Homo sapiens: one gene and its partner. The protein of the gene in region 2 interacts with the protein of the main gene of each other region in a biochemical or structural test. Each region holds a gene or a part of one and is shown on either strand. Other genes may lie near its edges.

Region 1 (16,732 bases), on a different chromosome or scaffold from region 2:
TGCTTCTTCAATCACCAGCAAATCTTGACATCCATGGGGCAGGCTGCAGATCCCCCCAGGAGCTCCCCGTTTTTTGCCCACATCTGGGCAGCCAACATCTTGCAGTGGTGCCTGTTTTTTCAGCTGCGTCAAGAAACCACCCTCTCATCCTCTCTCAGGCCAGGTCTGTGGCAAATCCTCTCACAATGTCTCTTCTGTTTCTTGGTCTTTTTATTGTATCCCCTGGTCTCCCACTAGCAGAAGCCTGGACTTATCCTTTTGAAAAAGGACCCCACCAATCAGGCAAGGATGGCTCAAGCTCTGGGCTCTGCCTCTTGCTATCGATGGAACTCATCTATCTGAACCTTGGTTTTCATATCTGTAAAATGAGAATGGGCCTGCCCGCCACCCAGGATGTTGTGAGGATGCAATAAGGTGATTCATACCAGGTATTCAGCACTGCTTGGCACACAGGTGATCCTCAGTGGACCCTGGTCCCTTCTACTTGGACCCACACCCCCCTTGCCTGCACCAGTTTTGTGCTCCAGTCCCATTTGCATCAGGCATCCCACCTCATGAGTTCCACGGATGGCTGTGAGAAGACATTTACCCCTTGTTTTTAAGTGCCACCTCCCTAACCTGGCTTCACAGACATCTCAGGCTGGGCACGGTCCCCCCAAGAACCCTGGATGTCCCTTCCCCCTTCCCTTGGTCCCCTCCATAGACTCCACCCTCACCATTTGCTCTGGTAATGTTTCTGCTGCTGCTCCACCTTTGTCTAAAGGCCCAGCATGCCTGTCATCATGGCCTCTCTGGTCTGAAGCCCCACCCTCGGTCAGCACCCTGAGCGGCCCCTGGCATTCCCTCTCACACGGCAGATGAGACAGTTTGCCTGTATCTTCCTCCCAGTCCCAGCATGCAGTCCCCAGCTGGAAGATGGGTCAGAGGGGCTATCACATACTATGTGCCAGGCAGGGTTCCAAGTGCTTTATGCACCTCAATCCCTTTCACCTTCATAACCCCCTGATTATTGAGCTCTATTTTACCAATGAGGAAACTGAATGGCTTTGAGGGAATGAAGCTTCAAGGGAATGAAGCCTGGTGCCCATGGAAAACAAACTTGGGAACCACCATGATGCAGACCAACCCTCAGAGAGATGTCATGGTGGTGTCCCCAGGCCCTGTTCTCTGTGGAAGACATGGGCACTGACAAAATTGCACATCGCATTTTCCGCAGCCCTGTCATTTGCTCCTCTTCGAGAGGAAAGTTAGTTTGGGGAATCCTGGAAGCTCAGCAGTGAACCATCCAGAAGAAACACCTCCCTCATGGATTTATCTTCCTCACCACGTTCTTTACCACACTAAGGTCCTTCCTCTGAAACTCAAGAAGTGGCCATGCACCTGTTGGCAACTGGAAGATGCTGTGCCCTCTACAGCCCGCACAGTGGGGCTCCTCTCTGCCTCCATCAGAACTTTCATCCCTCAGGCCAGGCACAAGGACTCATGCCTGTCATCCCAACACTTTGAGAGGCTGTGGCAGAGGATTACTTGAGCCCAGGAGTTCAAGACCAGGCTGGGTAACATAGCAAGACCCCCATCTCTACAAAAACATTTTTTTTAATTAGCCAGGTGTGATGCATGTACCTGCAGTCCCAACTACTCAGTAGGCTAAGGGAGGAGGATCACTTGAGCCCAGGAGTTCGAGGCTGCAGTGAGCTATGATTGCACCACTGCACTCCAGCCTGGGCGACAGAGCAAGACTCTGTCTCAAAAAAATTAGCAGGGTGTGGTGGTGCATGCAGCCTGACAGAAACTCTGTTTTTTGTTTTTTTTTTTTTTTTGAGATGGAGTTTTGCTCTTGTCACCCAGGCTGGAGTGCAATGGCACAATCTCAGCTCACTGCAACCTCCGCCTCCTGGGTTCAAGCGATTCTTCTGTCTCTGCCTCCCGAGTGGCTGGGATTACAGGCGCACACCACCACATCCTGCTATTTTGTTTTGTTTTGTTTTGTATTTTTAGTAGAGGGGTTTCACCACATTGGCCAGGCTGGTCTCGAACTCCTGACCTCAGGTGATCCGCCCACCTCAGCCTCCTAAAATGCTGGAATTACAGGCCTGAGCCACTGTGCCTGGCAGGGACCCTGTCTTAAAAAGAAAAAAATATAAAGAAAAACCCTGCAAAGAACTTCTACCCTGGAGCAGCAGGGCTCCTGCCTGAGCCACCCTCTTCTCCTGGCTTCTCTCCTAGCCACACTCGGCCCTCCAGGGAGGGCACAGGGGCCCAGACACAGGCCTCACGCCTGCTCACCCTCAGTGCCAGCATGTGCTCCACAGGGAACCATGGCCTGCCAGGGACCTACCTGGCGTGGCGTCGGGGACTGTCTGGATGATCTCCCAGCGCGAGCCCAGCAGGAGGCAGGAACCCTTTGAGTATGAGTTCTCCCCACAGACTCTGTGCAGGGTCGGGCCACAGGCCTGGAGGCAGAAGCCTGTGAGCCAGGAGTCCCTAGCAGCCCCTCCTCCTTCACTCCCAGCCCCAGCCTCCTCCCCAACAACACCCCCCGCCCCACCCCACCCCCCCGTGGCCCAAGACACTCACTCACCAGGAGCCGGGAGCCGTTGGTGGAGGCTGCCAGGGTCAGGCCCAAGGACATGTTCACGGCCTCAGGGCGGACTGCAAGGGCAGACACGCGGGGTCTCACTCACAGCACACACTCATTTGCGGGGAAGGTCTGGACTGGAAGCTAAGCGGGGGCACAGTTGGGTCCAGGAGGGTTGAGGGGCCCAATTCCCAGGTGGTCACTCACTGTGCAGCGGGATGGGCTGGCACATGCCGGTGGCAGCTGCGCAGTCATACAGCCGTCCCGTCTGGTTGGCCGCCACCACCTCCAGGGGTGCTCCCACCACGAGTCTGGAGACACAACCATGGCCATGTCACTGCAGCCACAGGAGGGGTGGGAGCAGCGGGCACTTGGGGGTGAGGAAGTGTCCCTCCATGGGGAAGCGAGACTCTGTGGGGGAAATTCCTGGCATTTGCCACTTGGCAGAATATTCAGAAATCAGGGCCCAAGTGTAACTCACAGATGCCCAGGGGCCATGCTGGGGTTTATTTGGTTTTGAGTGTGCATAAGTACGTATGTGTGTATTTATGTTTAGAAATTTCTTTTTAACATTCACCAAAAAAAAAAAAAAAAAAAAAAAAAAAAACCTATTTAAAGACCAAAATGGCATTTCCCAATCATGGGTAAGCACATTGCGTTTCTGAGTTGCCATTATTTTGAACCACCCAAGAAATAAGATCATCTCAAGTTAATTGGAACAATTTCCTGAAGACATGTGCTTTCAAAACAAATAGTTGATTCTGTAATTCATTGGACCAATTTAAATATTGTATAAGCAATTTCAATTGGCCAATGTAAAGCAGTGTACTAGGATCCATAACTATATCTATAGTTATGTAGAGTCAAGGGTTTATTTGCAAAACTCCCTGAGTGGGAAAGTTTTTTAATTTTGGAAATGTTTTCTCACTACCCACAATCTCCTGTCTGTGAGAAAAGCAGACAGATACTGGTGTATTTTAATGCGCCAAGCAAGGCTTCATTAAATGGCCATGTGAGGGTTCCTTCTAGGTGCCGCTCCTTTACAGAAAGCTACAATCCCTGTGCATCATGATTCAGGGGATGCCTAAGGCTTTGTGAAGAAAATCTGAGCATTGGCTAGAGAGGTAGCAGTTTGGAACCTGCTGATACAAACGATGAGCAAAACTTTAGTGTAACCCATCAACCCATATGTTTTTTGAGACAGAGTTTCACTCTGTCACCCAGGTTGGAGTGCAATGGCGTGATCTCAGCTCACTGCAACCTCCACCTCCCAGGTTCAAGCAAATCTCCTATTTCAGTCACCCAGCTAGCTGGGATTACAGGCACCTGCCATCACGCCAGGCTAATTTTTGTATTTTTTAGTAGAGACAGGGTTTCACCATATTGGTCAGGCTGGTCTTGAACTCTTGACCTTAGGTGATCCACCCGCCTCAGCCTCCCAAAGTTCTAGGATTATAGGCATGAGCCACTGCACTCAGCCAATGTATTCTTTTTTTAAAATGTGGCCCAAAAAACTGATGGTGACAGAAGTCTGACCAGGGGTTCTCTGGGGATGTTGGGTGATGAGAAGGGGTCCACGGCAGCCCTGTGCCTGTGGGATTTGACACTGGAGCAGCTGACCTAGGTGGGGCTCACCCAGGCACGCACATGTGTATCCTTTATCAGATTGGGTCTTTCAGATTTGTGCACCTCAGTTGACCACATTTCCAAATAAAGAAAAACAAAAGCCTGGTGCCTGGTGCTTGCTTCCATCCCCCCAGACTGCCAGTCACATGAGGAAGGGAGAGGGGTGCGCGGTTGGAGCTCGGTGACCTCTTATAGCTCCTCGTGACCAACTGAGCCTTCCTGTCCACTGGGGCTCACTGCCAGCACCACTTCCTCCATGGAACCCTCCTGGGTCTGCTCTCTCCCTGCCTGCGCCCCCCAGACCTTGGTGACACCTGTGTCACATTGTGACTTGAACTCTCTGGGACAGGAGAATGTGAGCTCCTGGAAGTGGGGGCAGGTTCATAATTTGTGGGTCCCAATTTGAAATAAAACTGTGGGGTCTCTTGGGGTTGGGGGGCTCTTACCTTTCTTCTGCTCTCTTCCTCAACCTGTCCTGACGTTTTTTATTTGCTATGTAGTGTCCCACTCCCTCGGGGTACTCCCAGAGTGAGCGCCCCTAACTGACTTTACCCAGCTCATGCCAGGGGCGGAAGGTAGCAGCGGTCATTGCTCCCACATGGGTGGGGGAGCCAGCAGCTGATACCCCTTCACCACCCTTCAGGAGGCGGTGGGAGGTGGGGCTGCTGCTGAGCTAAGGCTCCAAACCCCCAGTGCATCTCCCTTCTCCCATGACTTTTTTTTTTTGACGGAGTCTCACTCTGTCACCTAGGCTGGAGTAAAGTGGCACGATCTCGGCTCACTGCAACCTCCACCTCCCAGGTTCAAGCGATTCTCCTGCCTCAGCCTCCCAAGTAGCTGGGATTACAGATGCCTGCCACCATGCCCGGCTAATTTTTTTTGCATTTTTAGTAGAGATGGGGTTTTGCTGTGTTGGCCAAACTGGTCTCAAACTCCTGGCCTCAGATGATCTGCCCGCCTCAGCCTCCCAAAGCGTTGGGATTATAGGCGTGAGCCATGGTGCCCAGCCCTGCCATCATTCTTTACTTGCAAAACACAAATGCACAGATAAAATTTTTAAGAATTGGCAAGACAGGGTGGCTCACACCTGTAATCCCAGCACTTTGGGAGGCCAAGGCAGGAGGATTGCTTGAGCCCAGGAGTTCAGCCAGTCTGGACAACATAGCAAGACTCCATCTCTGTAAAAAGTAAAACAAAACAAAACAAAAAACAGGCATGATGGCATGCACCTGTGGTCCCAGCTATTCAGGAGGCTGAGGTGAGAGGATCACTTGTGCCCGAGAGTTTGAGGCTGCAGTAAGCTGTGATTGCACCACTGCACTCCAGCCTGGGTAACAGAGCTGGAGTAAAAATAAAAATAAAAATAATCAGGAATTTCAAGAGGTCAAGGGCAGAACATTAAACTCCAAAGTTAATGAGTGTGGGCCCTGTGTGACCATACTGGCCCCAAGAAGTGGGCCCTGCCTGGGAGGCAGGTTCAAGGCTTCCCTCCCGAGGTAAGGTAGGGTCTTGTCTAGAGTTTTGTGGCCTTTCCTGGGATTGAGAATAATAGGTGCTGATGTCAGGGCCTCCAAGGAGCCAAGGGAAGACTTCTCACCCCTGCTGGCCTTCCTCCAGGACACCTCCCTGGGGTAACCCACGTGTACCCATCCACAGGACTTGATGTAGTGGAGGTTGGGGAAGGAGGGTGAGTGGGGCCTACCGAGATCCACCGAACTGCACCACGCTCTGCCCAAAGCCGCCTGCATCCTCCTGGAAGATCGTAGGCTCCTCCACATCCAGGTTGAATCCATGATAAGAAGCCAGGACTGAGGAATATTTGGTGGGCGGGGAGGCTGGGAGTTAAAGAAGCCCCAATCCCTAGGACCTCCCAGCCTCTTTTTCTTTTTTTTCTTTTTTTTTTTTTTTTTTTTGAGATGGAGTCTCGCTCTGTTGCTGAGGCTGGAGTGCAACGGCACGATCTCAGCTCACTGCAACTTCCGTCTCCTGGGTTCAAGCGATTCTCTTGCCTCAGCTTCCCAAGTAGCTGGGATTACAAGTGCACGCCACCATGCCCGGCTAATTTTTATATTTTTGGTAAAGATGGGGTTTCACCATGTTGGCCAGGCTGGTCACAAACTCCTGACCTCAGGGGATACGCCCATCTCGGCCTCCCAAAGTGCTGGGATTATAAGCATGAGCCACCGCACCCAGCCAAGCCTGATTTTTGATGGCACGTGAATGTGACTCTGATGCAGTTTTCAGCAGGGGGCCTCTTCCCTACGTGCAGTCAGGACTTGGGGGAAACAGGCCCAGGGAGGTGATGTCCAACCTTTCCCCCTCCCTGGTGGCTTCTGTGGCCTTCCACTCCCGGGGGAGGCTGGGGAGACCTCTGTCACCCACACCAGGGACTCCATGAGTGGGAGCAGGGAAGCCTGGGACAACATAGCCAGCTGGAGAGGTAGCTTAGTCGCCACCTGAGCACAGCCCCTGAGCCCCTCTTCATTCAGGTCACACTCTACTGACTCCGGGCCACTCGCACATGAAGCACTCCCCTGCCTCAGCTCCTCATAAGAGTGGTTGGAGCCGACCACCAGCCCCCAGCCTGCCCTCCCAGATGGAGTCCCCTCAGAACTCCTCCAAGCTTCTCCCCAGCACCCTGGCCCCACTTACCACTCAGAAGAAGCACAGTGCCGAAGGTCATCCCTGAGCAGCGCGTTGAGGGGAAGTGGAAGGTTGGGGACAGAGCACAGAAGGTGCTCACCCTCCCAGGGGGTAGTTAAAATAATGATTCAGGGCCTCCACACAGCAGGAAGAGGGGCACAGTGGGTAGGAGGGGCGTGGTTAATTATGGAACAGAAGTGGGGGCAGGGGCCAACAACACCCTGGGGAAAAACCCTCATTCTGTCCCCCTCCACAACCTGCAGGGACCTGGCTTCCTTCTCCCAGAAGACCACCCTCCCCCAGGCCTCAGGAGCCAGTTGGTACCCAGGGAGCCCCGTAGCTCTCTGAGGTCCCACAGGAGTGGAAGGACAGGAAGCAGAATGGCTGCAGAGGTCTTGGCATGTGGATGTGAGCCGGCAGAGAGGCAGGGAGAAGGGGAGCTAGGCCAGGGTGTGGTTTCAAAAAGCAGAGCCCCTCCAGAGGAGAATGGACACCCAAAATAATAAAGTCATGCCATGGGCTACTACTCAGCAAGAAATAAGATCAAACTACAGATCAGATGCCATGGCTCATGCCTGTGGTCCCAGAGCTTGGCAGGTGGATTGCTTGAGGCCAACAGTTCGAGACCAGCCTAGGCAACATAGCCAGACCCTGTCTTTACAATAAATAACAAAGAACAAACTGCAGTTCTGTACAACAATACAGGTTAACTCAATTTTATCTTAAGTGAAAGAAACCAGACACCAGAATGCCTAATGTCTGGTTCCTTTCATATACAAGAGAATGGGCAAAATTCATCTACGAAGATAGAAATCAGAAGAGTGGTTGTCTATGGTGGGGCAGAGAGGAAACTTTTTTTTTTTTTGACAAGTTTTGCTATGTCGCCCATGCTGGAATGCAGTGGCATGATCAGGGCTCACTGCAGCCTCAAATTCCCAGACTCAAGCAATTCTCCCACCTCAGCCTCCCAGTCACTGGGATTACTGATGCACACCACCATGCCCAGCTAATTTTTTTGTTTTTTGTAGAGACGAGATCGCACTATGTTGCCCATGCTGGTCTCGAGCTCCTGGACTCAAGCAATCCTCCCACCTCCTCCTCCCAAAGTACTGGGATTACAGGCGTGAGCCACCACATCCAGCCAGGAACCTTTAGCATGTGTTAAATTTAGCATTTAACACAATATTTTAATATTTATTACATGGGGTTGGGGAGAAGATAAATGAGTGGTTGTTATTTATTTTCTGTGATTTTTCTGTATGTTTGAAATATTCCATGATTAAACATAAAAGTTCCTTTAAAATGTGAAAAAGAAAAAGGTCTATATATAAAAGGCTAGGAATAGGCCAGGCGCAGTGGCTCACACCTATAATCCCAGCACTTTGAGAGGCTGAGGTGGATGGATCACCTGAGGTCAGGAGTTTGAGACCAGCTCTGGCCAATATGGTGAAACCCCGTCTCTACTAAAAATACAAAAATTAGCTGGGCATGGTGGTGCGCACCTGTAATCCCAGCTACTCAGGAGGCTGAGGCAGGAGAATCGCTTGAACCCAGGAGGTAGAGTTTGCAGTGAGTCAAGATTGCGCCACTGCACTCCAGCCTGGGCGACAGAGCAAGACTGTCTCAATAAATAAAAAATAAAAAATAAATAAAAAGCTTAGGAATATACTTTGAAGGTTAAAATATAACAAGATCCCTACCTATAACATAAATTATTTTGTATATATATGTGACAATTATTTAAAACATTTGGCTGGGCACAGTGGCTTATGTCTGTAATTCCAGCACTTTGGGAGGCTGAGGCAGGTGTATAGCTTGAGGTCAGGAGTTCGGGACCAGCCTGGCCAACATGGTGAAACCCCATCTCTACTAAAAATACAAAGATTAGCCAGGCATGGTGGTGCACGCCTGTAATCCCAGCTACTCAGGAAGCTGAGGCAGGAGAATCGCTTAAACCCAGGAGGCAGAGGTTGCAGTGAGTCAAGATCACACCACTGCATTCCAGCGTGGGCAACAGAGCAAGACTCTGTCTCAAAAACAAAACAAAATGAAACAAACAAAACATTTAAAATGTAATTAAACATCAAGTGCAAATAATATGAAATAGTTTTCTATACAAAAATTTTACATCAATTTACTTGAGAGCTGACATTTAATGGACAGAAGAAATTAATTGTGATGCATTAACGATGCCCTTGCAGGAAACCGAGCCGAGGGCTGTGATTGCTAACTTCGAGGCTGACTTATCTACTGCCTTACAAAGACTGCCCAGGCAAAGTGGAGCGGCAGCCTTCTCCCTCTTGTGCTGAAAGGTTTGTGGCTGGCCGCACCCTGTCATCAGTTCTGTGGATCTGTGAACTTCTCCCTGTATTTGGAACCACAAAATAATTTGTTGGTGATTCTTCATAATTCAGAAATTTAAAGAGCTCTTCATTTTCTCCATCTTCACCACACCTCATCTTTTACACATTTCTATATCCCCTTTAATTTTGGACTTCCTTCTGTAAGTAGTGCTTGAAACTCACGATTTGCTGATATCAGCAACTATAAAATTCTCCAACTTTCCCTAACTCGTATTATCGCTTGTCTCAGCAAAATTTTTTGTTTTCCACTCATGTTTGGAGAGCAATGATAAGGGCAAAATGCAGTAAGGTAGTCAAATGCTCACAATCACTGCACGCTGCCAGGAAATCATCTTTCTCCCAGGCCTGGAGCTGGAGCTGCCAAGGCTCAGAGTCCACAGCAGCTGAAGGTGATGCCCCCAAATTCAGGGCATCCTCTGGGGACTTGATGGCGGCTCCACCCTTAAAGGAACCACCAGCTCTCAGTAAATTTTTAATTAATTAATCAATTAATTTTTATTTTGAGATGGAGTCCTGCTCTGTCGCCCAGGCTGGAGTGCAGTGGTGCAATCTCAGCTCATTGCAACCTCTGCCTCCCAGGTTCAAGTGATTCTCCTGTCTGAGCCTCCCGAGTAGCTGGGATTACAGGCACACACCACCACACCTGACTAATTTTTGTATTTTTAGTAGAGACGGGGTTTTGCCATATTGGCCAGGCTGGTCTCGAACTCCTGACCATAGGTGATCCACCTGCCTTGACTTCCCAAAGTACTGGATTACAGCAGTGAGCCACCGTGCCCGTCTTCTCTCAGTAAGTTTTAAAAAGTTACACTTAGATAAATAAGAAAACAAGAATTTAATAATTGTTTTCAAATCAATGTGAAGGAGAATATTTTTGCAGCCTTTCTCCAGAATGAGCTGTGTCTGCCTGGAGAGCATAACTCCAGGTCCCCATGCCTTAGAGGCCACAGCCAGGATTTGGTTTTGTTTCTCCTGGTCTTCCCCTCCTCCCAGGAAATTTGGCTTTATTCTTCACATGCATTCATAATTCTCTCTCTCCAAATCACTTTTTCCCCCGCATGAGAAAAATACATCCATAGTAATGTGTTCAAATTGCTGGCTTCCAATTCTCCCCTTTTCCATTTGGGGTATGGATTAGATGCCCTGGAATATTTGCATTGAATTTTACCTATTCATCTACTTTGATCATCATAATGATCGCTGAGGGAAGCCAGGCTGTCAATAGACACATCTAAAATACAAAGTTGATGAGAAGGATAGAGTTTGCAAATGAAAGTAATTAAATGCATTAGTCAAAAGCAGAGAGAAAGAAAACCTAGCCAATAGTTCATCAGATAGAAAAGGTTTTTCTTAATAGAAGGATATCATGAAACTGACAGTTAAAGTAGAATTAATTTTTGTTGTTGTTGTTGTTAAGAGACAGAGTCTGGCACTGTTGCCCAAGCTAGAGGGCAGTGGCGTGACCATAGCTCACTGCAGCCTCGGACTCCTGGGCTCAAGTGATCCTCCCACCTCTGGTTTTTTTGTTGTTGTTGTTTGTTTGTTTGTTTGTTTTCTACAGATGGAGTCTCACTATGTTGCCCAGGTTGATCTCGAACTCTTGGGTTCAAGCAATCCTCTGGCCTCCTAAAGCACTGGAATTACAGGTATGAACCACCGCACCTGGAGCCACTGCACCTGGCCTCGAAATTAATTTTGTTTTTTTTGAGACGGAGTCTCACTCTGTCGCCCAGGCTAGAGTGCAGTGGTGCGACTCACTGCAACCTCGGCCTCCCGAGTTCAAGCAATTCTCCCACCTCAGCCTCCTGAGTAGCTGGGATTACAGGTGCACGCCACCATGTCCAGCTAATTTTTTTGTATTATTAGTCGATACAGGCTGGCCTCCAACTCCTGACGTCAGTCGATTCACCCTCCTCAGCCTCCCAAAGTGCTGGGATTACAGGCATGAGCCACCACACCCAGCCCAAAATTAATTTTTATATCATCAGGGATAATACCTTTGTCCAGAGGGCACAAATACAGATGTTGACTTCAAATTCTTGGTCCTGTCACACAATATACTACCCTGAAGATTTTCAGTAGATCCTTTTACTTATCTGTTCACACTTGTTTTGTGCATTTCTTCATCATGCTGAATTCCTGACAGCTTTGTATAAACCACGTAGTATGGAGACAGGTTTTCCCCTCTGAGCTGATAAAGTTTATAAAATATTCTGGACACACATTCACTCAGACTAGAAACGAAATCATGACTAACTTGGATTCTGCATGTATGCCTCTCTTAAGAATCAGTTTGGCCACTTTGCCCCACTCACCCATGGGTGGGCTAACAGGCACAGATGAACAGGGGCCAGCAGAAAACACCCATGACCAGCAGGCACTTTGCATCCAATCTAGTTAATGTATTTCTTTTTTTCACTCAGTTCTCCTAAAACCACCAGCCCAGGCTCCTTGCTAGAAAAATTGCCAGGTCATGAGAGTTAAATCATAAAAAGTTGGATGCTCAACTTTTCTAGCTTTATAGATGTGTTTTTTGCAGACATGCGACATTAAAGACAATTTAGCTAGGCCAGGCATGGTGGCTAATGCCTGTAATCCCAGCACTTTGGGAGGCGGAAGCAGGAGGATCACTTTAGGGCAGGAGTTCAAGACCAGCCTGGGCAACACAGTGAGACACCATCTCTAAAATTTTTTTTTTTTTTGAGACAGAGTCTCACTCTGTCACTCAGGCTGGAGTGCAGTGGTGCAATCTCGGCTCACTGCAGCCTCTGCCACCCAGGTTCCAGCAATTCTCCTGCCTGTAGCTGGAACTACAGGCACATGCCACCACACCCAGCTAATTTTTGTATTTTTAGTACAGGCGGGATTTCACCATGTTGGCAAGGCTGGTCTCAAACTCCTGACCTCAGGGGATCCACCTGCCTCAGCTTCCCAAAGTGCTAGGATTACAAGCACGAGCCACCATGCCTGGCAACGTTTTTAAAACATTAGCCAGGCATGATGGCACACACCTTTAGTCCCAGAAGCTCGGAAGGCTGAAGCAAGAGGATCGCTTGAGCCCAGAAGACCAAGGCTGCAGTGAGCTCTGATTGTGCCACTGCACTCCAGCCTGGGCAACAGAGCAAGATTCTGTCTCAAAAAAAAAAAAAAATTACCATATGATTCAGCAATTCCACTTCTGGGTGTATACCCAAGAGAATTGAAAGCATGGTCTTGAAGAGATATTTGTGCGCCCATATTCATCATTCATGAGAGGCAAAAAAAGCAACCCAAATGCCCATTGATGGGCAAATGGATAAACAAAACGTGGTATATACACACAATGGAATATTATTCAGCCTTCAAAAGGAGAGGAATTCTGACACATGCTACCACATGGGTGAACCTTGAGGACATTATGCTAAGCAAAATATGCCAGTCGCAAAAAGACAAATGCTGTATGAGTCTATTTCTATGACATGCCAAAGCAGTCAAATTCATAGAGACAGAAAGAATTGTGGTTGCCAGGAGTTAGGGAAAGGGGAGAATTGGGAGTTGTTTAATGGGTATAGGGTTTCAGTTTTACAAGATAGAAAGAGCTCTTGAGATTGGCTATACTTAAAAATGGTTAAGATGGTAAATTTTATGTTATGTATATTTTATCACAATTAATTTTTTTAAGTTCCAAGTAACTATCTTTCTCTTTGACATTAATGTGAAAAGCAATCTCCTACTTGCCTATTCCTCCATACAACACTGAAAAGATGAATAGGCAATGGCCATGATTTGATCATGTTCACCATTTTCCCTCCTTTCTTAAGCACTGAGTCAAGGGTGAGAGGCATCCCGTGAACTACCGTGTGCTCTGTGAATACTGCCCTGCAAGCATCAGCCTCTTTAGCCTGAGTGCACCATAAGTAGTTAGCCCATTCTACTGATGCAGGGCAGGCAAGCTCCAAAATTGGGGCTTAGCCCGGGAGGGTTCTTAACTTTGCTCAGGAAAGAACTGAAGAGCGAGCCTGTGGTGGAAGAAAGCAGGTTTATTGAAGCAGCAGTGGCAGCAAGGTAGCTGTTCCTTGCAGAGCAGGACAACCCATAGGCAGTGAGCCCACAGTAGCAGCCAGTGGGCTGCTGGCTAACTGTACTTATACCGACTTTTAATTACATGCAAATTAAGGGGTGGGTTATTCAGAACTATCTGGAAAAGGTGTGGGGAGTTTCCAGAACCATATGAGGTAACTTGCTGACCGTTGCTATGGTGTGTTTCCATGGCATTTGTAAACTGTCATGGCACCGGTGGGAGTGTCTTTATGCTAATAAGTGGCGAGGGTAATGAGAGTTTGCTTTCCTGGCCATCTGCTGGTTTGGGCTGTTTTTTTAGTGCATCCCATCTTGACCAGATCATGCTCTGATTAGCTGGGTTGTGACCAGAAAACAGGTCCTGCTGATCTCCTACCTCACTATCTCTCCCACCACTCATAGGATTAACATTAATTACAAATGAACAACAAAACCTCCTTTTCTGTCACTAGAGGTTTCAGCAGCTGAAAAGCTCCCACATACATGTGTTGCACAAAGATGAAAGCTGATTCAGACTTTGTATGGCAGTGACTTATTCCAAGTATGAGGTGACATGCTTGCTCTCCCACACAAGCGTTAGTCACTGCTATTCTGCTGTATACCTCTGACATACACAATGTCCAAGCTGTTCCTTCACAAAGGAATCTTGCTCACAGCATAGTCTTCAAGCATAGTATTTGCCAGACACTGTAGGTAGCCTATCCAACAGCCACCAGCGCTGCCACCTTCCTGGCTGGTGGAGCTACCCTCCTTTTTTTTTCTCTTTTTTTTTTTTTTTTTGTTGAGACAGAGTTCTACTCTGTCCCCCAGGCTGGAGTGCAGTGGCATGACCTCAGCTCACTGTAACTTCCACCTCTCAGGTTCAAGCGATTCTCCTGCCTCAGCCTCCCAAGTAGCTGGGATTACAGGCACCTGCCACCATGCCCAGCTAATTTTTGTATTTTCGGTAGAGACAGAGTTTTGCCATGTTGGTCAGGCTGGTCTCAATCTCCTGACCTCAGGTGACCTACCCACCTCTGCCTCCCAAAGTGCTGAGATTATAGGCATGAGTCACTGCACCTGGCTGGAGCTACCTCTTTTTATTAAGCCTGTGAAAAGCACATGCTCACCTTCTCAGCACTGCATGCAACCAAGGGGATGGAATTTGACCCAATCCTAGTCAGTGGGAAAGAACTAAACCGCCCCCGCAAGGACGATCAATTGGAAGATCAGAAAGAATCTGTCAATGCTGAGACTCTGCATTAAACACTAACCTGCACCTGAACCTCTTGCAGAGTAAAGGTCTTCTGTCTGCTCTTACATGCTTTTGTTTTTTTCTATTATTTGCAGCCAAAAGCAACCTTTCAATACAGGTATGAACTCTACTGCCATTTCTACAAGCTTCTTGGAAATTATGTGACTTGTACCTACTTTTGCTACTTTAAAAAGCACCTTTGATTTATGTCACTGTGGTTTTGCTGTCTCCTCTGTATTCGGTGACAACACTAATCACTTTTGAATAGGAAAGCTACATGTAGCAGTTGTTCTAAGAAATCTCTATTGCTTTACCTGAGGCAGGCAGATCATGAGGTCAGGGGTTCGAGACCAGCCTGACCAACATGGTGAAACCCCCGTCTATACTAAAAATACAAAAATTAGCTGGGCGTGGTGGTGCGCGCCTGTAATCCCAGCTACTCAAGAGGCTGAGGCAGGAGAATCACTTGAACCCAGGAGGCAAAGGTTGCAGTGAGCCAAGATGATGCCACTGCACTCCAGCCTGGGCGACAGAGCAAGACTCCATCTCAATAAATAAATAAATAAGAAAATAACACAAAAGCTTTCAGAGGTTCATGCGACTGTTTGATAAAGTTTCAGAATGGGCAGCACACTAGGGACAAATACATGTCAGAACCAATACAACCTACCTGTCAGGGAGTATAATACCTTCTAGATATTTTCGGGTTTTGGCTCACAATCACTTATTCCGGTATGCATGTCTATACTATACGTGCACTGGGCTCAATATTTAAAAGTCAATATTGACTTTGATGACATTATTGTAAATTGTAGCAATTAGATTAGTTTTTAATCACAACTTCCATGCTTTTGAGCCATTGATCCATTTTGTGATTCGGGGATCTAATGCAACACAATAGCCAACCCTGAAAATGCAAATGTAATAAATGTACACAATAACACACAAAGGAAGAATATCAGAAAATAACACCTTGTCGGCCAAGTACAGTGGCTCATACCTCTAATCCCAGCACTTTCGGAGGCCGAGGAGGGCGGATCATGAGGTCAGGAGTTCGAGACCAGCCTAGTCAACATGGTGAAACCCCATCTATACTAAAAATACAAAAATTAGCTGGAAATGGTGGTGCCTGCCTGTAATCCCAGCTACTCCAGAGGCTGAGGCAGGAGAATCGCTTGAACTTGAACCTGGGAGGCGGAGGTTGCAGTGAGCCAAGATCATGCCACTGCACTCCAGCCTGGGTGACAGAGCGAGACTCTGTCTCAAAAATAAATAAATAAAAATGGGCATGGTGGTACGCCCCTGTACTCCCAGCTACTTGGGAGGCTGAGGCAGAGGCATCACTTGAACCCAGGAGACAGAGGTTGCGTTGAGCCGAGATCGTGCCACTACACTCCAGCCCGGGAGACAAAGTGAGACTATCTCAAAAAATAATAATAATAAAATAAAATAGAAAATAACAACTTGTTGCCTGAATTTAGACAAGAACCCACTGTAGTCCCTGGAGTCCGTGTGCCACACAATTATTAAGGCCACAACACTATTTCTGTGCAAATCACTAGTTTCAAATGTTTGAGATGTATGGGTTTCTTGCTCTTTTTCTCTAAAACCTTCCACTTAGAAGACCATCATTGACCACCAGTGGTTCGTGGAACACATTTTGAGAAACACCACTCTAGGGTCAATTTTTTTTTTTTTTTCTGAGACATGATCTTTCTCTGTTGCCCAGGCTGGAGTGTGGTGGTCCAAATCACAGCTCACTGTATCCTCAACCTCCCAGGCTCAAGTGATCCTCCTGCTTCAGCCTACCAAGTAGCTGGGACTACAAGCACATGCCACCATGCCTGGGTAATTTTTAAATTTTTTTGTAGACACAAGGTTTCAATATATTACCCAGGGTGGTCTCAAATTTCTGAGCACAAACAATCCTCCTGCCTCGGCCTCCCAAAGTGCTGGGATTACAGGCATGAGCCACTGTGCCCAGCCATTAGGGCTGAATTCTTACAAAGCCTTATCTTCTGATTCCCTTTCTGAGGAAACTGCATAATAATTAGTCATCCTGGGGACTCAAAAGCTTCAAAATCCACAGGGATTTTGGAGCCTCTGCTGATGTATAGGACAGACATTTTTGGCTGGAGGTAAAGGGCCACTTTCCATCTTCCCTTCAAATCACTCAACTGCCTCCCTTCTGTTTTTCTAATTGAAACATCCACACGGCCCGGGTCCCTT
Region 2 (15,751 bases):
TAGATGTTTCCCCAAATAAGATATATAAAAATGATAAATATATGAAAAGATGATCAATCTAGTTATTGGGAAATTAAAACTACAGTAAGATACCATGACCCAACACTAGAATGGCAAAAATTTAAAATACAAATGCCAAGTGTTTATGTAGATGTAGAGTAACTGGGACCAAAATCCTAGGTCTCTCTCTTTCTTTCTCTCCCTCTCTCCATATATATATATATATATATATATATATATATTCACATATCCACATAAATATCTGCATTTAAATATTTATACCAGACTTATTAACAATAGCCAAAAATCATAAACAACCCAATTGTCTACTGATGACTAGATAAATAAGCTTTACCATAAGCATTCAGTGGTATGCTCTAACAATAAAAAATAACAAACCGTTGATATACATAATGACATAAATAAACCTCAGGAGAGTCAAGCTAAGTGAAGGAAGACAGACATAAAAGACTATATACTGTACAATCTCATTTATATAAAATTCTAGAATAGGCAAGAGTATAGTGACAGAAAACAGATTGATTTTTGCCAAGGGCCAGAGGAGGTGGTGGGTGGGGAGATTCACTGCAGTGGAGCCTGATGGAAATCTTAAAGTGATAAAAAAAAAGTTGCATTTCTTGATTGTGGTGGTAGTTAATGAATTTTATTGTATGAAAGTTATACCCCAAATAAATATAATTTTAAAGATACTGTGAATAATAGTATAAAAATCCAAACTCCATAGAAATAAATTTTTAAAAGGAATAAGGCGTTTATGAAATTAAAAAAAACATTTCTGTAAGACATCAAAGATAGTCTAAAAATAATAACTATGTTCATGGATTAGAAGACTCAATGCTTTAAAAATATCAGTTCTATTCAAAGTGATCTATATATTCAATATAAGTTGAGTTAAAAATCCTAATTTTTTGTTCTATATCTTAACAAAATGACTTTAAAATTTATATGGAAGTTCAAAAACTAGAATAATCAAGAGACATTTATAAAAAGAAATATATATTAATTTATGAATATAAATATATATATTCATATATATAATTAGCTTTTCAATAAATGGTATAGGGACAATTGTTTCATACCCACCCTGCGTTGTATAAAAAAATCCATTCCAACTATACAGCCATAAAAAAGAATGAGATCATGTTCTTTGCAGAGATATGGATGAAGCTGGAGGCCATTATCCTTAGCAAACTAACACAGAAAACCAAATGCCACATGTTCTCACTCATGAGTGGGAGCTAAATGATGAGAACACATGGACACATACAGGGGAACACACACACTGGAGCCTTTTGGAGGAAGGAGGGTGGGAAGAGGGAGAGGATCAAGAAAATCAGCTAATGGGTACTAGGGTTAATACTTGGGTAATAAAATAATCTGTACAACACAGACCCCCATGACACAAGTTTACCCATGTAACAAACTTAAACTTGTACCCCTTAACTTAAAAGTTAAAAAAAATCCATTCCAAGTGGAGAAAAATGAATGACCTATAACTACACAAATGTATTATGAAAAACATAACTTTGAGTGAAAGAATAGTTACAAGGCAAATGTATAATTGGATTGTATTTATATAAAATGCAAAATCTGGCAAAACTAAGTAATGTACTACTTAGGGATACATAGACAGGTATAAAACCTCCAAAGGGGCGAGGCGCGGTGGCTCACACCTGTAATCCCAGCACTTTGGGAGGCCGAGGCGGGCGGATCACGAGGTCAGGAGATCGAGGCCATCCTGGCTAACACAGTGAAACCCCGTCTCTACTAAAAATACAAAAAAATTAGCCAGGCGTGGTGGCGGGCGCCTGTAGTCCCAGCTACTAGGGAGACTGAGGCAGGAGAATGGCGTGAACCCAGGAGGCGGAGCTTGCAGCCAGCCGAGATGCGAGGTGGCGCCACTGCACTCCAGCCTGGGCGACAGAGCGAGACTCCGTCTCAAAAAAAAAAAAAAAAAAAAAAACTCCAAAGGAAGCATGGAAATGATCAATGTATGATTCACAATATTTATGGGTTACTGCTCAGTGAGGGAAGAGTGCTGCCATCACTATGTGGTATATAAAAGGCTCTGAAGAATAGTTTTACTATCTCTTGCTCTTAATGTTCTGTACACAGGTGTTCATTTGTTGCCCATTAACATGTGCATGTTCATCTGCATTAAATCTTTTTATGTATATTTTTCTAAATTAAAAAATTGCAGATTCCAAGGACCAAAAACTAGACACTTCTATTCAATATCTTAGTCTGGCACCAAGAAATCTACATTTTTATCAAGTTCCTACAGTAATTTTAATAATAGTAGTCTAAGGGTCACATTTTGAGTATCCGTATTATTTCCATAGTTTGAATATTTTACTCTTATAACTTAGCACTTCAGAAAGAGCTACAATGTGACTAAAGGAGGCAGTTTATAATAAATAAACATACAACCATTCTAATTCCAGAAATTATCACTTTACTATACAAAAAAACCTAAACATTTACAAAAGAAAATAAAAAGAAGTTGCATTTTTAGGCCACATTGGGAAAGTTGCACAGGAGTCTGATGAACAAACTTCGTGAAACATCTCCGTACCATGCCAGTACTATACAGAGAAACCCAGTCAACCATTATACCATAGGTTGAGGTATTTAGTACCTGAAAGTCAACCCAGTGCTCCCTTTGCTTATTATTTGTCTATAAAAATATAAAACCCGGCATCTTTACAAAACCTGAAATTATTGTCAATAAACTATATAGGAATAAAATTTTGTGAAAGGGAATAAAATAGAAGAAAGATGACAAAGGTCAGCTGTCAGCAAATATTAATGTGAAATTTTCCTAACATGCATTAAATTATAATAGTCCAAGCAACACTAGTTATTTTAACAATCTAAATATAGAGTGTTGCTATTTTAAGCAATCTTGCTATGGCATAATTTTATTTTACATATGTACAAATTATGTTATTGTATATACAGATCAAGGAACTCCTCCAGTTCTCTCATCTTGATGGCAGTTACTGTTCTTCAGGCAGCAAGTTTTACTTTGACTTCTTGCTCACAGCAAGGGACATAGATGGGCATTTCTTTCCAAGTTCAATACATTCAGGGAAGTCTGCCTCTCAGCTCATTGTTTTTCTCAAGGAATGATGAGCAGTATCAAGGATTTGCACAGATAAATAGTGTCTCCAGTTGAACATATCAAGCATTAGCTACACTTTTGACTTCTGTGCTTCTACAAGACTATATGACCCCTTCATGTTGGCTTTTCTTGCAAAGTAAATTATCATTCCAATGGCAGGTATTATTAAGGAGGATGCAAAATAGAGCACGAGAAGCTCAGGAGAAAAATAGTCTTTGTTGTTTTCTCTTCCTGGAAAATAACAAAATGGATGCAATTAATGTCTAGTACAAAAAGATAGCATTTAATAACAACAGTTACATGTTTATTATAACAGTACAACTAGTTCTCCAAAGAGAAGGGAATCAAAGCAGTGATAAGGACCATCAGGACCCAAGATGCATGTTTGTCTGAATTATCCAAATAATCAGTTGGTGGTTGCTATGGTCATGATGGATCTAAAGATGATAGTTGTTGGCTTCCACAAACTTGGATTCAAATAGATTCAGGTTCAGTTGTAAAATGGAAGGGAGGGTACAAGTTTTTAACAAGAACAGGAATTGGAGAGAGGCAAGAACAGGAATTGGAGAGAGGCACTTGCTTGGGGAAATAAAAATATCTACTAAAGAACTGGGACTCTGATGACCATGAATTGAAATGACTAACCAGTTCTCTAAGAAAATCCTTATAATATTCAGAGTGTGACCATTATAGCTAAATGCCACAAATAAGATCGTAAGAGAAAAAAAAAATCTTGCCAATGGCTTTCTCAGAGATATACAGAAGTTTCTATGTTTTTTATGTCAGAAATAGGGCATATTAATACATTTTTCCTCTTCAGCATTTATATCATCTTTTGATAAACTAGAGTTCTTTGGACAGTGTTATGTTACAGCTTAAATGTTTCTTAGAGGCATTCTCTAATCTATATCTCCCTCATTCTAAATTAAGAACCTCAATATATTTTCAAAACCCACTCGTTTTCCCTTCAAAACCCTTATTACAGCTTTTAATTAAACATTTATCCATGTAATTACTTATTAAGTTTAGTTTCCTCCCCTAAGCTAAAAATTACATCAAGACATGTATATCTATTTTCTTTTTAGTCCATCACTGAACAGCCAGCACCTGACTCACTGCTTGGCCTAGTTGGCACCAAAAACAATATTTTTTAAACACTAATAACATTTTTTTCTCTCTACATTTTGCTTTTGCCACTTAGTTGTAAATGGAGTACAGTAGGTAACAGCATACAAAAACTTTAAAATTAGTATTCTTTCTAATCTGCTAAAAAATCATCTGACAGCTGCTATACTGCTTAACATCTTAACTTTATAAGAGCAGCTGAAGAAGATAGTGTGTCATTTACTGAAGACTCACTCCTGTTTATACTTTGCACAGCATCATGTGACCACACAAGTATTAAGTTTCACTAAGTGGCATATACATTGTCTCAGTCCTGGCAGAAACTAGAGATCTGACTTTGGTGATTACTACATTCTTTCCAGAGCTTTCTAATCACTGGAGGTCAACCAAGTAAAAAGAATCACGAGCATCAGATAATGTGAAGTCACTTTTTCAAATTATTGAAGAAAAACAGTTCACCCTAAGCATAATGATAATTGTCTCACTTTTTGACTTTCCCTTGCTAGAGCTGAGCTAGTCAAAGTATAAAGGTAATATTTGAATGGGATGTCCATCAACATGATTATGGATAGGCATCAATATTGATGACATGCTGAGAAACAGAAATACTATTTCTATTTCTTTTCTTTCTTTCTTTTCAATGTAATATACATTATCTTTTGCCTTTCAGTCTTCCCCACAGGCATTGGCAGAAAAATACAAATTTGCTGCCAAGGTAGTTGCCAGGGCAACCTTCAAATACAATTTTCTATTTGTCATATAAACACTGAATATCTTTTAAAAATCCTGATGATTTCTATTAATGGAATACGTTCAAGCTAAGACAAAATGAAACAAATAAAAAATCCAGCCAAATGCAAAAGAAATCTAGTTCAAAATACCCAGAAAAATATCCATTTTTTGGTCTTCATTAAAATTTAGCTAGTTTAAACTATATTCAGTTTGGGGGCATGAGTTTCTAGCTGAGCGCTTAATATTCTTTGATTGTTCATTTAAATAATGAGTAAAAAGTAGCAACTGTGTAAGTGGCTAATTTGATAAAGCAATTAGAAAATAAAGCAATGTGTGTGAGACAGAGTCAAAAAGTAGAGAAGCAGGTTTGATGTGTCTTTAAAAGGTCACAATTAATTAACAAAAGAATTACAGAAATGTTAGGGGACCAATTTCCCAGGGCTAGGCTTAATTAAAGGTGGCCCAGAGGCATTAAGGATTAAAGAAAATAGGGATGAGTAAATTCAACCTACTCATAACTGAGATTGCAATCTGTCCAGAATCATCCCCAACCTCATTGGAAGCACTGATTACATATACCCCTGAATCATTTTGAGTGACATGATACAAAGTAAATGTTCCCTTCTTTGAACACATAGTAACTTCATTGGCTAGATCAATTCTTTTCAGGATAATCACTGCAGGTGGATGACTAGAAGTTTCATATATAATCGTGATGTTTTCCCCTTCTTTAACATTTCTAGATGGATGTATAGCTATACAGCTATTCTCATGTTTTGAGGAGGTACTGTGAAGATGGAAAACATACATACGGTAAGGCTTGCCATTTTGAGAAATTTGGGTAGACGAACAAAAATTTTACCTGTTTCTGATGTAGATTCAAATTTTCTCTGCATTGACAAGTGATTGCTCACTCCAATAGCCAAGTGCCAGACCTCTTAAGACTTGGCATTTGTTTGCAGTCCTGTTTGCACTCCACCGCCAAGTATGGCCTCCATTACACAATAGCAGCTAATTGGTGTGCAAGGGGTGTGATACTGATCAGCCAAGGCTGATGTATTTTGTTTACACCAATAAGATCAGCAGATCCTACCTACTGTGCATTCACAAGAGGGCTTAGGAGATTAAGGGGCCCCTGAAGTTTCTCCAATGAGGATACTGCTCCTCTCTTTCTCTGTCCACCAGAATAGAGTAGGATGGCAAGTGGGTTGGAATTTTAATGAGGCTTTTCGATAGTCGAGAGATTTTTTTATGTTGTTCAGGATCAAGTTTACTATTCCCAATTATTATCCTGAAAAGAGTCAATCCAGAAAATTGCAGTTACTCCATGTTCAGAAAATAGTGTTTCCTTCTGGTAGAAAGGAAGAGGGTCTGGATAGAACCCTTCTTTTTCAATGTGCCAATCCTACTTCTTTAGTTTCCTTATAACCTCCCGGGAAAAGGTTTGAAAATATGGTTAAACATTTAGCAACTGCAAGACCTCAGAGACAAATGATAAATTGTAAACTGAAAAAAGCAAGCAGGAATTCCTCAGTCACGAATGATTAATGTCAACTTCCTGGCTAAACTTTATAGGATAAAGCAGCTGTGCTTGATTTTTCCAAGAATCCTTAAGAAATAAACCACAGCTCCATTTTGCCAACTCATTCATCAAATATTGGAAACTCTTAGTAATCCTTGGAACCTCTGAACTATTACCAAGAAAACAAAAACTCAAAACAAACTCACCTTGAACATCAAGTGTTAAACTTCTTAATTGTGAGCCAACTTTGTTTTTAGATTCACATTCATATACTCCCGCATCCTTCAACTGGGCCTTTCGGATGGTATAGGCGCCATCTATAGATTTTAGTACTGTGTCTCCTGTCTCCGCTTTTTTCTTCAGGATTATCCATGTTTCTGGAACATTTCCACATGTACAAGAGATGATGACAGTGTCTCCTTCTTTGACACTCTCAGAAGGAAAAGCTGTAAGTTTTATGTCTTTTGGAGTAACTGTAAAGAGAATTTAAAAGACATCCCTGATTGAGTGAAATATAAACCAACTCCATATTAATTTAGCGACATCAACAATAGCTTCCCTGGAGCTATTTGTGCTTAGCGTTTGCATTAAATGTTAAGAAGGGCAAGTAAAGAAGTCAAGCATTGCTGGATTGTTGGAAATGATCATGTTTTAACTAAGAGAGTACATGGCTTATGCTTCTTTCATGTTCCTTAATATAATTATTTACCCAGCCTAGCACAAAGAATAGGTGTTTGATATGGTTTGGCTCTGTGTCCCCATCCAGGTCTCAACTTGAATTGTAATCCTCACGTTTTGAGGGAGGAACCTGGTGAGAGGTGACTGGATCATGGGGGCTGTTTCCCCCATGCTGTTCTCATGATAGTTAATGAGTTTTTACGAGAACTTTTGGTTTTAAAGTGTGGCACTTCCTCACTCTCTCTTGCCTGCCGCCATGTTAAGGTGTGCCTTGCTTCCCTTTCTCCTCTGCCATGATTGCACATTTTGTGAGGTCTTCCCAGCCATGTGGAACTGTATTAAACCTCTTTTATAAATTACCAATCTCAAGTAGTATCTTTATAGCAGTGTGAAAATTGACAAATACAGTGTTTGATAAAGAGCTATAGAATTCAGATGTGAAATAGAAACTTAATTTTTTGTAATACTGTTTTGAAAAAATTTCCTTGAAGTACAAAGGCCTTTACAGGTTTCTGAGTTTTGAGTTGGATTCTTCAATCAAGAAGTTAAGCTGTACAGATGTGGCTTTTTCACTATCCTTAACAATACTACTGCCATTTATTAAGTTCCAAGCACTGAGCTAAGTACTTGACATATAACATCTCTATTAATGCAACAACCACTGGAGGCAGGTACCATATCACCAATTTTTAATCCCTATTAAGGTCTTCTATTTTGTAAGTTGATTTGAAATTCTTTCCCCATCCAAGGTCATGACAACCATCCAAAAGGTTTTTTTGTTTGTTTGTCTGTTTTTTAAGGATGTGTATTGTCTTTCCAATATTCTTCTTCTAAAATACAAATCTTATTGAGTTGAGATAACAAGAAAGTCACTAATATCTTAGTGGGAATAATGCCAAGGGGTAATAGACAAAATGACAACCCTGGCAAAGAAAAGAACCCTGATACCCAAAAGGGATGGGATAGAGGAAATCCACATTGATCACCTGATGATTTTGCTCATAACTCCGTATGGCTTCAACCTGCGAACTAATAATTGTCTTGTTCTCAATCTTGGGTCTCCATCCTAAAGAGAAGGGGCCTAGATCTGTTGACTTAATCTACTTTAGTGCTTCCATGCTCTCAGGCTGATGAACCAAAGGACGGAGTCATGGCTACTCATAATCTCAGAATTTGCAAAAGACTTAAGTGCCAGCTTAGGCTTCTAAGCAAATACTACTGGCCATCTTGTGAGATTGCCACTCAGAGTTCAATTCAGCCAGATATGGTAGCTTTAATCCTACATAATCCCAAATGCAGATATTCCTCTTCCTATTCTTATTTCAATACCATAACCATTGCCTCATAAGTGTAACTGGAACTTCTGACACAGGTCCTGAAGGCTTGCATTTCACTTGAGTTTAAAAGAATCTCAGGATAAGAAACTTGTAACAATTCATGAGAAAAGACAATTTCAGGAGATTTCTCCATACATTGGAAACATCATAAACTCTTCAAAACCCTCATCACACTTTTGTAGTAAAAATTTTGTTTTCAAAGACTTTACTCATAATCAGTAACATAACCAAAAACATTACTAGCAAGGATAACTCATTACTCACACTCTGCTCACCTTGGATAATTAATTCCACTTCCTTTCTGCTTCTTCCAGCCTGGTTAATTCCTTCACATAAATAAACCCCAGAATCTTCCATTTTTGTAGAAATTAAGGTGAGAGTTGCATTCTCAGAAAGAGGCTGTAGCTCCCCGTTAGGGAGCTGCCTGCTCCACAGGATTTTCGGAGCAGGAAAGCCCTGGCTCAAGCATGTCATATTCACAGAACTGCCTTCCTCCAGGATGGAGGAAGGGCTGACCAAGACGGTTGTATCTCTGGGGGCAACTGAAAAGGCAGAGACGCTTGTTAGCTTGACCTATTATGCCCTGAGTTCCAAAGAGTTTTAATAATGTTGCAAAACTGGGCTATGGATTCAGCAGACTCAAAGAGTTTGTAAACCTTGATAATTCACCACAAGAGGTTTTGGTCCTCATTTACTTTAGCTGATACCAAATGATAGAGTAGAACATGGACACGTCATGGTGTTTTCTAATGGAAGTAAGTTCAGTATACACTTCCTTGCAACCAAAGAATGACGAGGGTCAATGATAGTGTGTACTGCCATTTATGGTAGAGTCAACATGACTGTGAATTATTTGAATCTCCTTCTGTGAAAAGATGTGGTCTATTTTTCCACCCCTTGAATCTCTAGGCTGGCCTCATGACTCACTTTGACCAATTGAATGTGGAAGAAGAAGTAACACTGTAGGACTTCCAAACCCAGGCCTTGAAGAGGCTGCTTTCATTTACACCTTCTTGAAACACTGAGCTCTGGAGAGTAAATCTAGGCTACTGTTCCTCAGGGTGACACCACATAAAGAAAGAGAGGCCAAGTCATCCAAGATATGGCTCCAGACATGTGGGTGAAGTCATCTGAGACCAGCCAGCCCTGCTAACCTTACTGAAAATGCACGAGTGAGCTCAGCTAATACCATATTGAACAGAATAACTGCCTAGCTGGTCCCTTCCTAAATTGCCTACTCAAAGCATCATAAGCCAGTAAATAGTTACTATTTTAAGTTTAGGGAGGGTGATTTGTTACAATCATCATTATTTTGAAATTTCTTTTCAGTAACGTTTTTTCTCCACAGAGGTTTTAACGATTAACCTTATGTTAACTATTGCCTGGCAAACACGATAAAGAGACAGGTATTAAACTGTAGATACCTCACATATGTACTTACCATTGACATAAAGTGTTTGCGTACTCTGCCTTTGTTTGGGTTCGAATTCCATGTCATCAATATGTAACTTAGCCTGACAAACAAGAGCTTTTCCAGTATCTTCAATGGTAGGGATGAAGGTCATTTCCAAACTTTTGTTCTCTAGAGATTTCATATCCGTATCCTCCAAAAACTCTATATTCTCCAGAATAGTCTCCCCCTTAAGTAATTCAATCTCCAGCCGGTCAAGGGGGTACACGCTAGGAACCTTGCAGCTTACAGTGACAGAGCTCCCATTCACGAGGCCACCACTCATCTCGATTTCTGGATCTCTAGGGAATGCTGCAAATCGCAAGCAAAAACGATTTTTATTCTTGATATTCAAGGAAAAATTGAGCTAAGCTTTATTAAATGTAAAGGCCTAAAAATGACAGCTTTAAGTCACCTGGGATAGAATGACTGTCAATATATAAGTAATGACAGTATTTATAAATGACATATTTATGATATTATATATGAATAATGTTAGAAACAAAAACTACTTAGTATATCCAGTCATTGAGTAATAAATTTTCACTTATTTCTTTTCTTCTTAATATGCAATCTTGCTGTGTGCCATGGCTTGACCTTTTCTAAGTATACATCAGTTTCCACCATCTTATTTAGTAAGTATATATTTCACATTTTAAAATTTGCCATGTTATGTTGAATACTTATTGTAAACTAGTCCCCTAATATTCATTATCTCAGTCTTCAAAGCAGCTGTGTAAAATGAGTATTACTTATTTTACAGCCAGGAATACTGAAACATATAGAGGCTAAGAGACTTTCTTCACACATTATACCTAGTAAGTCACTGAGATGGGCTGCAAATCCATATTTCTCTGACCTCAGAGCCCAGCTTTGGTTTTACAGAGCTGTGCAGTCTCTCAGTATCAAATAAGACAAACAAGGAAGTTCTCAACTTAGTTTAAATTTTAATGACCAAATTTAGGCAGCAAGTTTTAAATATTTCTCAGATAATACTTGTAATCAAGAACTGCCTTAACTGTATTCTTTATAATACAGTACAAATCAGTAAAATGAGACTAAGATAGCTATCAAGGGCAAGAATAATGCTTAAACATTTTTTTCCTTAACCAAAATGTTGTTAAAGTGATACATGCTCAAATATTTCTATGTTGCAATAAGACCCCACTGCTGGTTCTCATTTCTGCTGGGAATGTGCCTATCTCAGCAGATCATGGACTCTGGGTAATATGATAATGCAAATAAAATTTATCTTTCTTTGGAGAGACCCAAATCCCTTTACAGGCATACTCTAACTCATTCTGAACAAAATCCTGAAGGGTAACACAAGTTTGGGCAGGGTTTCTGGTAGAAAATCTCTACGATATGTTCTCTTGAGTTCTACTGAATAAAACAAGGCAGAGTGACCCCCTCAAAAAAAAATAACTTTATGGTCACTTTGCATATTTTGTTCTTCATTCAATATGGACTGAGGAACTCCAGCAATGTCAAGTTCATAGAGATTTGAGGTTGCAAAGAATGTTTATTAAGACAAAAGAAGAGTGAGAGAAAGTGTAGTATATGTAGGTGGCATAAATCAACATTAAGATCTAGCGCTGCTTCCTGATTCTGCTTTTCACCTGAGCCACTGACACTGACCATCCCCATCCCCAATCTAACTTCTTATCTTTAATTTTGGCTTCCTTCTGCTTCCTATTCCCTTATTTTTTTCCCATCCTGCAGACAGCTCATCAAATGTGCCTTTAAAACAGTGCCTTAAAACAGTTTAAAACTACTCATTCCCAACTGGAGTAGCTGAACAGTAGTCACCTCCACCCAGTCCTCTGAATGGGCACTGACCCCAATGCACTCACCTCCAGCATGGAGTGTGTTCAAGTGCATGATGAGAGAGTATTGACAAGGCATAAACCAAGGATTGTGGGTGCTGTGTACATATGTAATATATATTTAAGATTTAAGCTAATTATATTGCATCAAACCATTCTGATTCAGATTTAGGAACAAAATTCACAAGGCTAAATTCCTTTTCTAAACATAAGGATTTCATTGCACTTCACAGACTTGCATTCTTTTTCTTCCAATAGAACTGAAAAAAAAAAACAGTAAACAATTCTGAAAACCACTTACAGTAGAGCTCCACCTGGATTCCCTTTTCCAGTTTCTTATGTCCACAAGTCACTGTGCACAGATAAGAGTGTTCGTTCTCAAAACTCACAGGGCTCAGGGTCAGCGTGGAATTGGTCCCCTCACTCCTCACCTTCCCGCTCAGAGGGCTGTCTATCTGGGTTCTCCAGGAGAAAGATGGGGATTCACAGCCCATGACACTACATGTCAACATGACTGAGTCTCCAATCTGAGCAGCAATCCGGGGTCCAGGGGAGATCTCAACAGTAAATGGTTTCTCTGGGACACAGGTGGAAAACAAGATGAAAAGAACATAAGATTCTTTTCTTTTTTCATCACATTCTGACATATGATCTTTATTTTTCCTGATCTCCTTTCAGCTAATATCCATGCCAAGAAGAAATTACTCTTTTCCACCTTGGGACCATCAGAAATGAGCCCACATCTTTTAAGAATGAAACCACGATAGTTTGTTGATTCATTCATTTAACAAATTGAATAGATAAAAATTTGTCAAGAGAGGTTGCTATCTCTTCACAGCAATAATAGAGTATCTGCTCAAATGTAGTTTATCAAATCACTGTAAGAGTGGACAATCACTCAAATAATTTAAGTGGTTCTTGTGTGTCAAGCACTATCTAAATTACTATATATATATATATATATATATTCTCATTTAATCCTCACAACAATTTTGTACACTAGTACTATTCTTTCTTCTTTGCCTTCTCTTTCTGCTTCTACTCTTTCTCTTCCTCCTTTTCCCCCTCCTTTTTCTTCTTGAGGAAATTTAGGCTCAGAAATGCTAAATAACTTTGCCCAGTTTGCAAGTAGCAAAATTAGGACTTGATGCCAGGTGGGTCTGATTCAAGATCCCAGCTTTTCAGTTGCTACAACAACTAAATCAAGTCATCCTCATATGGTGATAAAATGGTCTAAAAGAGGTACTGGAAAAAGCTACAAAAAATGTCTTCTAATTAGATATAATGCCCACAGTGGACAAGCATTTAGAGCTTCTGTTCCAATAATACAGTTATACCACTGAAAGTCACATAGCATCATCCTGAAATCAAAGTCAAAATCTAAGCATTAAAATGATACATAAGTCACCTCCAAAATTTGCCTGATGCAATATAAAAATACTTTACAATTAATTCAGGGTCTGAAAGCCGAGATGTGAGGGCAAACTCCTAAGACTCAAATATCCAGGAATGCTCTTTGGCCATCAGCGCTATCCCGGCTGGGTGCATGGGCTTCTTTTGGATGACTGCTATTTAGGGAGAAAGGGAACACCACATCTTGGCTCTGTTTCCCTGAAGAAACTGGGAGTGTTTGGGCAACTTTTAAAGCAACAGATAAGACCCCCCCATAAAAATCACTGAAATCTTACTTGTAAATTACAGGCTTAAGGTAAAAGAAAGAAATCTCAATATATAAATAATCCAAACATATTATATTTTGCATGGTTCTCATCTATGCCATAAGTTATTTTTCTCAATAGGTTTGTCTAATTATGACATCTTAGTATTTTCTGAAGAAGATTCTCCTCAATAAACTGATATGCTATTAGATTTTGAAAGAGAGCTCATTCACAAAAACAACCAGAGCTTCTGAATTTTTTATATGCTAGTGTGAGAATGAGGAACTTTAAAAAACAGATCGACTGCCTGTCTGTGAACATTTCTCAAGTCATTCTTTACAGTGGCCACATGTATTGCCATGTGAACTTGGAACCATTGGAGGAGTAACTCTTTTAGGTAGCTGAAGGTTTCTCTGAAAGTACTTTCAGTACTTTAGGCCAGTAGTATCCCATGTGATGCAAAGTGCAAAACAACTCTCCCCAGCCCCAAAATACATGTCCTTTGTACATTTAAATAGGATACAGTTTATTATGGAGTGACATTATTCCAGGGTGAATGATTAGCTTTACACACTTTTATTAGTATAATATCTTTCCTGGTCACTTGAGAATGCTAACCTAACATCCAACCGAGATAATCCACTTAGGGTGAGTTTGATTTTTATTTTAATCATCCAAGTTTAAATACCATGTTTTCACATTTTAAAAATTTGTGTTGAGCTGGGTGTAGTGGCACGTGCCTATAATCCCAGCTACTCAGGCAGCTAGGGTGGGAGGATCACTTGAGCCTAGGAGTTTGACTTCAGTGTGGGCAACATAGCAAGATCTCATTTCCTAAAACAAACAAAAGACTATGCTGCCCATGTTTATAATCTATTCATTAATTCAGCAAATATTTACTGAACATTTATTATGTGTTAGGTACTGTGCTAAGAATCCAAACATTCACACACACACACACACACACACACACACACACACAGAATTCCTGATTTTAAGGAGTTTACAGATTTTTTAAAAATTAAATAGAAACAGGAGGTCTCACTATATTGCCGAGGCTGGTCTTGTACTCCTGGCCTCAAGCAATCCTTCCACCTAAGCCTCCCAAAGTGCTGGGATTATAGGCTTGAGCCATTGTGCCCGGAGCAGGAATTTACAGTTTAGTGGAAAGACACATTTAAAAAGATATATTATTTTGGCTCTTACTAAGGAATATTTGCGTTACCTATTTATATGCCTGTCCTTCCTTCCTAGTTTGTATGCTCCCCTAGGGCAGTTGTCATATCTTTTTCATATCTGTACCCCCAGTACCAAGTACAATTCTTGGATTCTTGGACAAGGGCTCTTAATATTTGTTGAACTGAACAGAATAGCATACATGACTATAAGGAGTGTTGAGTGTACACGAAAGAAAGAATATGTAGTTTGGTCTGACACAGTCTGGAACTGGGAGGCTGACATGAGCTTCATATTGGAGAATGGCTAAGATTTTGCCAGATGAAGGAAGGAGAAAGGCCATTTCAGGCAGAAGGAACAGCGTAAGCAGAGGCACTGAGTCATCAACAGATCTGCAAAGGTAGTTTCTGACCAGATCATAAAGAGTTCTGTGTGACAGTTTTAAGAAATGTGATGGAAGTTATAGAAAATGAGCACCTTTTTGTTTAAGGTAATAAACCCTGGGAGCAGTGCATAAGATTGATTATATTAGGGACAGAATCTTAGCAGGGAGACTATTTAAAGATAATTAGCCATAAAATATGTGAAATATTATTCAGCCTTAAAAAACAAAAGAGGAAATTCTGTCATTTGCAACAAAAGGGATGAACCCAGAGGACACTATGCTAAGTGAAACAAGCCAGGCACAGAGAAGCCAGTACCTCCTGATCTCACTTATATGTGGGATCTACTTCTAAAGTCATAGAAGTAGAGAGTAGAATGGTGGTTACCAGAGGCTGGGGCGAGGAGTGGAAGGGAACAAGGAGATGTTGGTCAATGGATACAAAGGTTCAGTTAGACAGGAGAGTAAGTTGTTTAGATCTATTGTACATCATGATGACTATAGTTAATGATAATATATTGTATATTTAAAAATAGCTAAGAAAGTGAATTTCAAATGTATCACCACAAAAGAGCAAGTGAGGCAATGGATTTGTTGACTTGACTTAATCATTCTACATTGTATACCTATACCAAACATCACATTGTAATCTATAAATGTATACAATCATGATTTATCAATTAAAAATATTTTAAAAAAGAAATAATAAAGACAATTAGC

What was found.
Region 1: the proteins of VCAM1 (region 2) and ITGAD form a complex in vitro, tested with the Homo sapiens proteins (one study listed by BioGRID).

The regions. Positions count from the first base shown.
Region 1 is NC_000016.10:31,383,516-31,400,247, reverse strand, and holds the start of ITGAD (integrin alpha-D isoform 2 precursor), read right to left. Parts: upstream 6,914-16,732; 5' UTR 6,888-6,913; coding exon 6,857-6,887; intron 6,013-6,856; coding exon 5,907-6,012; intron 2,890-5,906; coding exon 2,786-2,889; intron 2,653-2,785; coding exon 2,582-2,652; intron 2,454-2,581; coding exon 2,339-2,453; intron 1-2,338.
Region 2 is NC_000001.11:100,725,748-100,741,498, reverse strand, and holds the end of VCAM1 (vascular cell adhesion protein 1 isoform a precursor), read right to left. Parts: intron 12,393-15,751; coding exon 12,117-12,392; intron 10,302-12,116; coding exon 9,981-10,301; intron 9,082-9,980; coding exon 8,815-9,081; intron 6,998-8,814; coding exon 6,731-6,997; intron 3,377-6,730; coding exon 3,216-3,376; 3' UTR 2,454-3,215; downstream 1-2,453. UniProt on the Homo sapiens protein: Cell adhesion glycoprotein predominantly expressed on the surface of endothelial cells that plays an important role in immune surveillance and inflammation.